2 separate regions of the Homo sapiens genome follow, and region 2 is linked to region 1. The links come from fine-mapping of genetic effects on gene expression. A gene starts in region 1. The other region holds a variant in brackets. All regions are shown on one strand. Distances are from middle to middle. Region 1 holds the start of GIMAP8 (GTPase, IMAP family member 8). Region 2 has its middle 8.6 kb from the start of GIMAP1.

What was found. PIP is the estimated chance that this variant, and not a neighbour inherited with it, causes the effect. A credible set is the group of variants that fine-mapping cannot tell apart.
Region 2: its variant is the best candidate, but not a certain one, in a credible set for the expression of GIMAP8 in unexposed skin (GTEx, PIP 0.78).

The regions. Positions count from the first base shown.
Region 1 is chr7:150,448,067-150,453,440 of GRCh38, forward strand. It overlaps GIMAP8 (GTPase, IMAP family member 8), which reads left to right and starts at 2,564. Exons shown (of 5, transcript NM_175571.4): 1 at 2,564-3,109. LINC00996 (long intergenic non-protein coding RNA 996) reads left to right here. Exons shown (of 4, transcript NR_034033.1): 4 at 1-74.
Region 2 is chr7:150,705,320-150,710,693 of GRCh38, forward strand. No RefSeq gene overlaps it. Among named protein-coding and RNA genes, the nearest start is that of GIMAP1, 8.6 kb to the right of the region's middle. RefSeq lists an enhancer at 1,320-1,819. The variant A/G (reference allele first, on the strand shown) is at 2,229.

The DNA.
Region 1 (5,374 bases):
GTGCTGGGATTACAGGCATGAGCCACCAGGCCCGGCCTTATTGTTTCTATTTGTAATAAATCTGTTCCCCTTGCTGCTGTCTCTGCGTTAGTTCTCCTCATTTCTAGCTTGGGTGCTGCAGCAGCCTCTGACCGGTCCTTCTGTCTCCAGCCTGACTGCGTTTTCTCGCACCTGCTGGGCTGTCTTAGGGCCCCGATGCCGGTGGCGTTTGCCATTCTCCGTCTGCCTGAGGCGTCCTCCCTCCGTCATCTGACAGGCAAATGTTACAGCCCTTCAAGACTTAGGCATTACCTTTCCCGCGCGGCCTTCCCTTCACTGTGCCTTACAATCTTCTCCATGGCAGGACATAGTGAAACTCCGTCTCTACCACTCCGTCAGTACCTGCCACAGGAAATGGCGGGTTTACGGATTTGTTTATAAGTTTATTTCCCCAATTGGTTGTTTTTCCATCTTGCGGGGTTTACATCGTCTCCTCCTCACTTGCGTGGCAGCCTGGACGCATCTCTATCACAGCACATTACCTCGTTTCGTGACCACAGCGTAGTCTCTTCCCCATCCTCAGACTGAGTTAGGGCCCCTTTGAGTCAGGTATTTGCCTTGCTAATCTTTGTGCCCTCTGTGTCTAATACGGTGCTTGGTCCTGGTAGATTTCTCCTTGCTTGCATAACATGTGTCTTCCTGGCTTATTCGATTTCTGGAAGTCTAGAACTTCTCCCCAGTGTTTCACCTGCCTGCTGAGTCAGGGCTCTCGGCCCGCTGGGGAGCATTTTGCTGCACTTGTCATTAGCCACAAAGCCACTAGGGGGCAGGGAGCCCCCATCCTGCCTCAGATCGGTGCCAAACCAGAACCCGGCAGCCTGCCTTCTGCACGGAAATCAATTCTCTAGGAGCTGATTTGCTGAAAGATCATTTTGCAAAATGGTCAACTCAGCAAATAATCGACTTGCTGAATCTTTGAGGAGTTATTTGCAGCTTCAGTTTTACTTAGAGCAATCCCTGGATGCTTAATATTTCATTTAAGAATGAGTGAGCCTTTTCTTCTCTATTTTGGGGAAACAGTTTCTTGCTGAGCCTCTGCCTCTGTTAGTACCCCAGCGGGGATGAACTGCAGTACCTGGCTTCGGGTTTTTGTCTTTTCATTATAATGAGTTGGTTTTATGTGCGTTGACCTACTGTAAAGGAAGGGTGGGGTTCTTCCAAAATAGATCCTCTTTCAATGAGGAGACAGGTAGAGTGGGACATGGGAAGGGCTTTGTCAGCTTTCCCCATCAAGATGTGTCCTGTGTGTCCCCAAAGCTCTTCTTGAGCCATCCCAGCATAACCAGGGTTTCCCTCAGGTTCATAACAAGGTAGAGCAGTCCTCAAGGCTGGCGCATGAAGACCAGTCCAGGGGGAGGGTGGATCCCTCGGGATGTGATAGGCTGACAGCAGCTCCCCAAAGCCTGTGGTTTTGACTACTGTAGAGACTTCATATCTGAAGCATGCCCCTCTACTTCAGCCACCCCCACTGCTCCTCCTTCTGCGGGGTCCCTTTGGAAAGCTTAGCACCACCTCAGACATTTGGAAAACTAACTTGAGCTCCAGTCCCTCGAGGCCCTAGCCTCTGCATCCTGTGAAGAGGGCCCTGCTGTGCAGAGCGCAGAGGGTCCCGCACTCACTTGGATGAACCTCTAGGGCATTCTGCTCAGTCTCAGGAGGGCAGACACTGTGGGACTCCACTCACATGAGTATCTGACGTTGCCAAAAATCATAGAAACAGGCCGGGTGTGGTGGCTCACACCTGTAATCCCAGCGCTTTGGGAGGCTGAGGCAGGTGGATCACTTGAGGTCAGGAGTTCAAGACCAGCCTGGCCAACATGGTGAAACCCCGTTTCTACTAAAAATACAAATATTAGCCGTGTGTGGTGGCGGGAACCTGTAATCCCAGCTACTCGGGAGGCTGGGGCAGGAGAATTGCTTGAACTCGGGAGGTGGAGGTTGCAGTGAGCCGAGATCACACCATTGCACTCCAGCCTGGGCGACAGAGCAAGACTCTGTCTCAAAAAAAAAAAAAAAATCATAGAAACGGAAAGTAGAACGGTGGTTACCCGGGCTGGGGTTCGGGGAGGTGAGTTGGGGTGTAATGGGGAGAGTTTGGGTGCTGCAGGATGAAAAGTCCTGCAGATCTGGCACACAACCATGTGAATGTACTTTCTACTGTGGGCTATACACTTAGAAATGGTTAGGATGGTACTATTAATGTTACATCATTTTTACCCTAGTAAACATTTTTTAAGAAGTCTTCCTCCGTGTTTGACTTCCTTATGAAGTAGAGACCAGGTAGTTTGGACACTATGTTCTTTCACAAAAGGGATTTCATTTTGTGAAATATTTGAAAGCATCGAAGTCTAGCATTTCACGTTTTGCAAGCTGGGGAAAAGCATTCATTCCCTGAGAAGCAGCGTTGGTCTGTCAGGCTTGGAGTTCCCCGGGTTGTGGGTTTTAGGGAAGGGAAGGGAAGCGAGGAAGGACTTGTGAGAGGAAGTCCTAAAGGCCACTTAAGGGCACACAGAGGCCCGGAGCTGGCTTTGCTCAGAGCTTGTAGCGGCGCCACAATCTCTGTCCTCTCAGGAACAGGAACTGGCTTGACGTCCTTTTCCTGCCCTATCCAAGCCCCTGTTCTTGCAGCCCTTCTGAAGCTCAGCCTGGCACCGGCCCCGGCGCCCCAGCCCCTGGCCAAGCCTCTGCTGTCATTTCTCCTCCCTCCTCTCAGTCTGCAGCTGCGGGACGGGCCGGGCTCCTCAGTTTCTGCTGTGTTGTGACCCCACGAGGCGCTCAGCACCCAGGGAAGGCGCGTGTGTCCCCGATGCTGGCTCCTCCCTGAGCCCCGACGGCTCTCGAGGTTCTGAGCCTGTGGCCTGCACAGGGAACTTCCTCTCCGACTGCATTTATGCCTCTGTGGATGTGAAGGCTATTTCTAGAAATCTCTTCCTTTGCAGAAACACCCGAAACCCTCCTGCCAGGAAGACCAGGGCCTGGGAAGAGGGTCGCTCTCCGGCCATTCTCCCCTCACCCTCCTCACCTTCCTCACATCCTGTGCCCTGGGGGACCAGCAGCTGCTTCCACCCAGGTGAGAGATGGAGGGATAGAGCCAGGTGGATTGCGGAGCCTCGGAGACTGTGGGACGCCGTGGGACCCCATGGGACACGACCGCAGTGCATGTGTGACATGTGCACTCGTGTGTAGATGTGTGTGCACTGGTGCATGGCTGTGGGGGAGGATGGGCTTGGCACCGGGAAGGCAGCCTGCTCAGCCATGGGAGAGGAGGCTGGGTTGAATGGCAGGGTTGAATGGCAGAGTTGAATGGCAGGGGCCCTGGGAAGCTTTCCTCCTGGTCCAAAGCGTGTCTCCCCAGCCTGCTGGGGAGTAGATTCGGCAGGATGGGGACAGAGGCATATTCCCAGACATCTATGAGAGTGGCTGTCCTAAAAGAAGGCGTGTCGGGGAGTGGGTGTGAGCCCTGAAGAGGAGGAGGGCTGAGACTGGCAGAAGGGAGGAAGAAGCAGGCGGAAGCAGCCGGTCAGATGCCCCATGAAGCTAGATGGTGCCGCAGAGCAGCCCCCAGGAGGAAGCCAGCGGAGCTCCTCCCGCAAAGCAGGGGGTGGGGGATGCTGATTTTTCCACGTCTGCTTTTCTGATCTTTCCTGCCCCTTGCACAGTTAGGATTCTGTGAACTGGGCATTGGAGGGATTGGAGGGGTCAAGACCTTACCAAAAGCAATATTTCTGATTTCACCTACATTTCAGCCAACCTGGTCCTCAGCAGTTAACCTCTTCCCTTCCTCTTGATGGTTGCCCTGCTGGGCTGGGTCTAAGGTCTTCCCCACGCTGGGCTCTGGAGGCATCTCCAACCACCCTGCTCTGTAAGTGGGAACTGCGATTAGATGTGGGATGAATCCCCGCATGGCTGGATGCTGTGCTCAGATGCCTGAGTCCACGTTTGCCTTGGGCTGTTTCCTGAGAAGGAGGCAGAGGCTGCCTTTACAGTCTTCAGTGAATTATAGGAAGAACGCTCTCTTTTTCTCTCAGTTGCTCTGCTGGGGTCTCCAGAGTGGCCTGGGAAATTGAGCAGAGGGAAATGTGGGCTGGCAGAGCGTGAGTGAGGGTGAGTTTGGGTACCTTTTTGTCCTTAAGTGCACTTTCTACATGTTGGGGTGAAGTGCTACTGGCTGGGAAGCTGTATGTGTGGTAGGAGTGTGCATGTGCGTGTGTGTATGTGGGTGTGTGTGTGTAGGTCCTGACATCATGTGGAGCTGCAGGCAGGAGTCCAGCCAAGACTCATTGGTTTGGTCATACTCTGCTGGGGAACCATGCAAGGCTGTGTCGCTTAATTGGGAAAGAAATTTCTTTCTTCTTCAGACCTGTGGGAGGCCTCTGCTTCCTTCAGCTTGCTGTTTTCTCACTAGTGTCTTTTTTTCTTAAATTAATTTACAGAGACATCTCACTTCACTTGCATATATATGTGTGTGTGTATGTATATATGTATATATATGTATATATGTATGTATATATGTATATATGTGTATATATGTATATATATGTGTGTATATGTGTGTGTGTGTGTGTGTGAGATATATATATATATATATATATATATATATATATACATGCGAGTGGAACTACAGGCACCCACCACCATGCCTGGCTAATTTTTGTACTTTTAATAAAGACGGGGATTTCATCATGTTGACCAGGCTGGTCTCAAACTCCTGATCTCGAGGGATCTACCTGCCTTGGCCTCTGAAAGTGTTGGGGTTACAGGCGTGAGCCACTGCGCCCGGCCTCCCTCTCAGTTCTAAAAACCGTTTTTCTTCTTTTCTTCACATTTCTGTCTCTCCTGTGATCGTTCATTCCTTTACCTCCACGTATTGGGCATATACTACATGCCAGGCACAATGTTAGGGCCTGGGGACACAGAACAAAACAGGCATGTTTGGAGTTTCAGCACATGCTGTTATGGAGCTTTGTACCAAGGGTAGTACAGAGAACATTTAGACATTTAAAAATAAAATTAATAAATAATTATAAAATATAAATAATATCAGATAGAATCAATGTTATGAAGAAAATTGAGGAGAGAGAGGAGATAGGGCATTAGTGTGAGAGCTTCTCTCCATAGGGTGTATCTGGGTGAAAGATGCTCTTAGAAGATCCCCGGTGCTGATTAGGTTTGAACCCACCGGAAATATTTTTCCCCTGGTGGACCGGTTCTGAGGTTCTGAGGTGTCTGAAGCTGCGGTGGGCTCTGCCCCGTGCCGTGCAGCCATCCAGATGATTCCAGAGAGAGGCCTCTGCCAAGGCCCTTGTGGGCTTTGCCTCGCCCTTTTCGAAAGTGG
Region 2 (5,374 bases), 260 kb after region 1:
GAAGAGCAATCTCAAATAAGCAACCTAACTTTACACGTCAAATTACTATAAAGACAACAAATAGATATGGATAGCATTGAATCTATAAATTACTTTGGGCAGTATGGCCATTTTCACACTAAGCAAAAAGAACAAACTGGAGGCATCATGCTACCCGACTTCAAACTATACTACAAGGCTACAGTAACCAAAACAGCATGGTACTCGTACCAAAACAGATAAATAGACCAGTGGAACAGAACAGAGGCCTCAGAAATAACACCACACATCTACAACTATCTGATCTTTGACAACCCTGACAAAAACAAGAAATGGGGAAAGGATTCCCTATTTAATAAATGGTGATGGGAAAACTGACTAGCCATATGCAGAAAACTGAAATTGGACCACTTCCTTACACCTTATACAAAAATTAACTCAAGATGGATTAAAGACTTAAACCTAAGACCTAAAACCATAAAAACCCTAGAATAAAACCTAGGCAATATCATTCAGGACATAGGCATGGGCAAAGACTTCATGACTAAAACACCAAAAGCAATGGCAACAAAAGCTAAAATTGACAAATGGGATCTAATTAAACTAAACAGTGTCTGCATAGCAAAAGAAACTATTTTCAGAGTGAACAGACAACCTACAGAATGGGAGAAAAATTTTGCAATCTATCCATCTGACAAAGGGCTAATATCCAGAATCTACAAAGAACTTAGATAAATTTACAAGAAAAAAACAAACAACCCCATCAAAAAGTGGGCAAAGTATATGAACAGACACTTTTCAAAAAAAGACATTTATGCAGTCGCAAACATATGCAAAAAAGCTCATCATCACTGGTCATTAGAGAAATGCAAATCAAAACCACAATGAGATACCATCTCACGCCAGTTAGAATGGCAAACATTAAAAAGTCAGGAAAGGTGGGGAGGAGCCAAGATGGCTGAATAGGAACAGCTCTGGTCTACAGCTCCCAGTGTGAGCGACGCAGAAGATGGGTGATTTCTGCATTTCCATCTGAGGTACCGGGTTCATCTCACTAGGGAGTGCCAGACAGTGGGTGCAGGTCAGTGGGTGCATGCACCATGCGTGAGCCAAAGCAGGGCGAGGCATTGCCTCACTCAGGAAGTGCAAGGGGTCAGGGAGTTCCCTTTCCTAGTCAAAGAAAGGGGTGACAGACGGCACCTGGAAAATCAGGTCACTCCCACCCAAATACTGTGCTTTTCCAACAGGCTTAAAAAACAGCGCACCAGGAGATTATATCCCGCGCATGGCTCGGAGGGTCCTATGCCCATGGAGTCTCGCTGATTGCTAGCACAGCAGACTGAGATCAAACTGCAAGGTGGCAGCAACGCTGGGGAAGGGGCGCCCGCCATTGCCCAGGCTTGCTTAGGTAAACAAAGCAGCCAGGAAGCTCCAACTGGGTGGAGCCCACCACAGCTCTAGGAGGCCTGCCTGCCTCTGTAGGCTCTACCTCTGGGGGCAGGGCACAGACAAACAAAAAGACAGCAGTAACCTCTGCAGACTTAAATGTCCCTGTCTGACAGCTTTGAAGAGAGCAGTGGTTCTCCCAGCATGCAGCTGGAGATCTGAGAACTGGCAGACTGCCTCCTCAACTGGGTCCCTGACCCCTGACCCCCGAGCAGCCTAACTGGGAGGCACCCCCCAGCAGGGGCAGACTGACACCTCACATGGCCGGGTACTCCAACAGACCTGCAGCTAAGGGTCCTGTCTGTTAGAAGGAAAACTAACAAACAGAAAGGACATCCACACCAAAAACCCATCTGTACATCACCATCATCAAAGACCAAAAGTAGATAAAACCACAAAGATAGGGAAAAAACAGAGCAGAAAAACTGGAAACTCTAAAAAGCAGAGCACCTCTCCTCCTCCAAAGGAACGCAGTTCCTCACCAGCAATGGAACAAAGCTGGACAGAGAATGACTTTGACGAGCTGAGAGAAGAAGGCTTCAGACGATCACATTACTCTGAGCTACCGGAGGACATTCAAACCGAAGGCAGAGAAGTTGAAAACTTTGAAAAAAGTTTAGAAGAATGTATAACTAGAATAACCCACACAGAGAAGTGCTTAAAGGAGCTGATGGAGCTGAAAACCAAGGCTCGAGAACTACGTGAAGAATGCAGAAGCCTCAGGAGCCAATGCGATCAACTGGAAGAAAGGGTGTCAGCAATGGAAGATGAAATGAATGAAATGAAGCGAGAAGGGAAGTTTA[A/G]AGAAAAAAAGAATAAAAAGAAATGAGCAAAGCCTCCAAGAAATATAGGACTATGTGAAAAGACCAAATCTACATCTGATTGGTGTACCTGAAAGTGACGGGGAGAATGGAACCAAGTTGGAAAACACTCTGCAGGATATTATCCAGGAGAACTTCCCCAATCTAGCAAGGCAGGCCAACATTCAGATTCAGGAAATACAGAGAACGCCACAAAGATACTCCTCGAGAAGAGCAACTCCAAGACACATAATTGTCAGATTCACCAAAGTTGAAATGAAGGAAAAAATGTTAAGGGCAGCCAGAGAGAAAGGTCGGGTTACCCTCAAAGGGAAGCCCATCAGACTAACAGCAGATCTCTCAGCAAAAACTCTACAAGCCAGAAGAGAGTGGGGGCCAATATTCAACATTCTTAAAGAAAAGAATTTTCAACCCAGAATTTCATATCCAGCCAAAATAAGCTTCATAAGTGAAGGAGAAATAAAATACTTTACAGACAAGCAAATGCTGACGAATTTTGTCACCACCAGGCCTGCCCTAAAAGAGCTCCTGAAGGAAGCACTAGACATGGAAAGGAACAACCGGTACCAGCCACTGCAAACTCATGCCAAAATGTAAAGACCATCGAGACTAGGAAGAAACTGCATGAACTAACGAGCAAAATAACCAGCTAACATCATAATGACAGGATCAAATTCACACATAACAATATTAACTATAAATGAAAATGGACTAAATTCTCCAATTAAAAGACACAGACTGGCAAATTGGATAAAGAGTCAAGACCCATCAGTGTGCTGTATTCAGGAAACCCATCTCACGTGCAGAGACACACATAGGCTCAAAATAAAAGGATGGAGGAAGATCTACCAAGCAAACGGAAAACAAAAAAAGGCAGGGGTTGCAATCCTAGTCTCTGATAAAACAGACTTTAAACCAACAAAGATCAAAAGAGACAAAGAAGGCCATTATATAATGGTAAAGGGATCAATTCAACAAGAAGAGCTAACTATCCTAAATATATATGCACCAAATGCAGGAGCACCCAGATTCATAAAGCAACTCCTGAGTGACCTACAAAGAGACTTAGACTCCAACACATTAATAGTGGGAGATTTTAACACCCCACTGTCAACATTAGACAATTCAATGAGACAGAAAGTCAACAAGGATACCCAGGAATTGAACTCAGCTCTGCACCAAGCAGACCTAATAGACATCTACAGAACACTCCACCCCAAATCAACAAAATATACATTTTTTTCAGCACCACACCACACCTATTCCAAAATTGACCACATACTTGGAAGTAAAGCTCTCCTCAGCAAATGTAAAAGAACAGAAATTATAACAAACTATCTCTCAGACCACAGTGCAATCAAACTAGAACTCAGGATTAAGAATCTCATTCAAAACTGCTCAAATACATGGAAACTGAACAACCTGATCCTGAATGACTACTGGGTACATAACGAAATGAAGGCAGAAATAAAGATATTCTTTGAAACCAACGAGAACAAAGACACAACATACCAGAATCTCTGGGACGCATTCAAAGCAGTGTGTAGAGGGAAATTTATAGCACTAAATGCCCACAAGAGAAAGCAGGAAAGATCCAAAATTGACACCCTAACATCACAATTAAAAGAACTAGAGAAGCAAGAGCAAACACATTCAAAAGCTAGCAGAAGGCAAGAAATAACTAAAATCAGAGTGGAACTGAAGGAAATAGAGACACAAAAAACTCTTCAAAAAATTAATGAATCCAGGAGCTGGTTTTTTGAAAGGATCAACAAAATTGATAAACCGCTATCAAGACTAATAAAAAAAGAGAGAAGAATCAAATAGACGCAATAAAAAATGATAAAGGGGATATCACCACTGATTCCACAGAAACACAAACTACCATCAGAGAATACTACAAACACCTCTACGCAAATAAACTAGAAAATCTAGAAGAAATGGATAAATTCCTCAACACATACACTCTCCCAAGACTAAACCAGGAAGAAGTTGAATCTCTGAATAGACCAATAGCAGGCTCTGAAATTGTGGCAATAATCAATAGCTTACCAACCAAAAAGAGTCCAGGACCAGATGGATTCACAGCTGAATTCTACCAGAGGTACAAGGAGGAACTGGTACCATTCCTTCTGAAACTATTCCAATCAACAGAAAAAGAGGGAATCCTCCCTAACTCATTTTATGAGGCCAGCATCATCCTGATACCAAAGCCGGGCAGAGACACAACCAAAAAAGAGAATTTTAGACCAATATCCTCGATGAACTTTGATGCAAAAATCCTCAATAAAATACTGGCAAACCGAATCCAGCAGCACATCAAAAACCTTCTCCACCATGATCAAGTGGGCTTCATCCCTGGGATGCAAGGCTGGTTCAATATATGCAAATCAATAAATGTAATCCAGCATATAAACAGAACCAAAGACAAAAACCACATGGTTATCTCAATAGATGCAGAAAAGGCCTTTGACAAAATTCAACAACCTTCATGCTAAAAACTCTCAATAAATTACGTATTGATGGGACGTATTTCAAAATAATAAGAGCTATCTATGACAAACCCACAGCCAATATCATACTGAATGGACAAAAACTGGAAGCATTCCCTTTGAAAACTGGCACAAGACAGGGATGCCCTCTCTCACCACTCCTATTCAACATAGTGTTGGAAGTTCTGGCCAGGGCAATTAGGCAGGAGAAGGAAATAAAGGGTACTCAATTAGGAAAAGAGGAAGTCAAATTGTCCCTGTTTGCAGACGACATGATTGTATATCTAGAAAACCCCATTGTCTCAGCCCAAAATCTCCTTAAGCTGATAAGCAACTTCAGCAAAGTCTCAGGATACAAAATCAATGTACAAAAATCACAAGCATTCTTATACACCAACAACAGACAAACAGAGAGCCAAATCATGAGTGAACTCCCATTCACAATTGCTTCCAAGAGAATAAAATACCTAGGAATCCGACTTACAAGGGATGTGAAGGACCTCTTCAAGGAGAACTACAAACCACTGCTCAATGAAATAAAAGAGGACACAAACAAATGGAAGAACATTCCATGCTCATGGGTAGGAAGAATCAATATCGTGAAAATGGCCATACTGCCCAAGGTAATTTACAGAT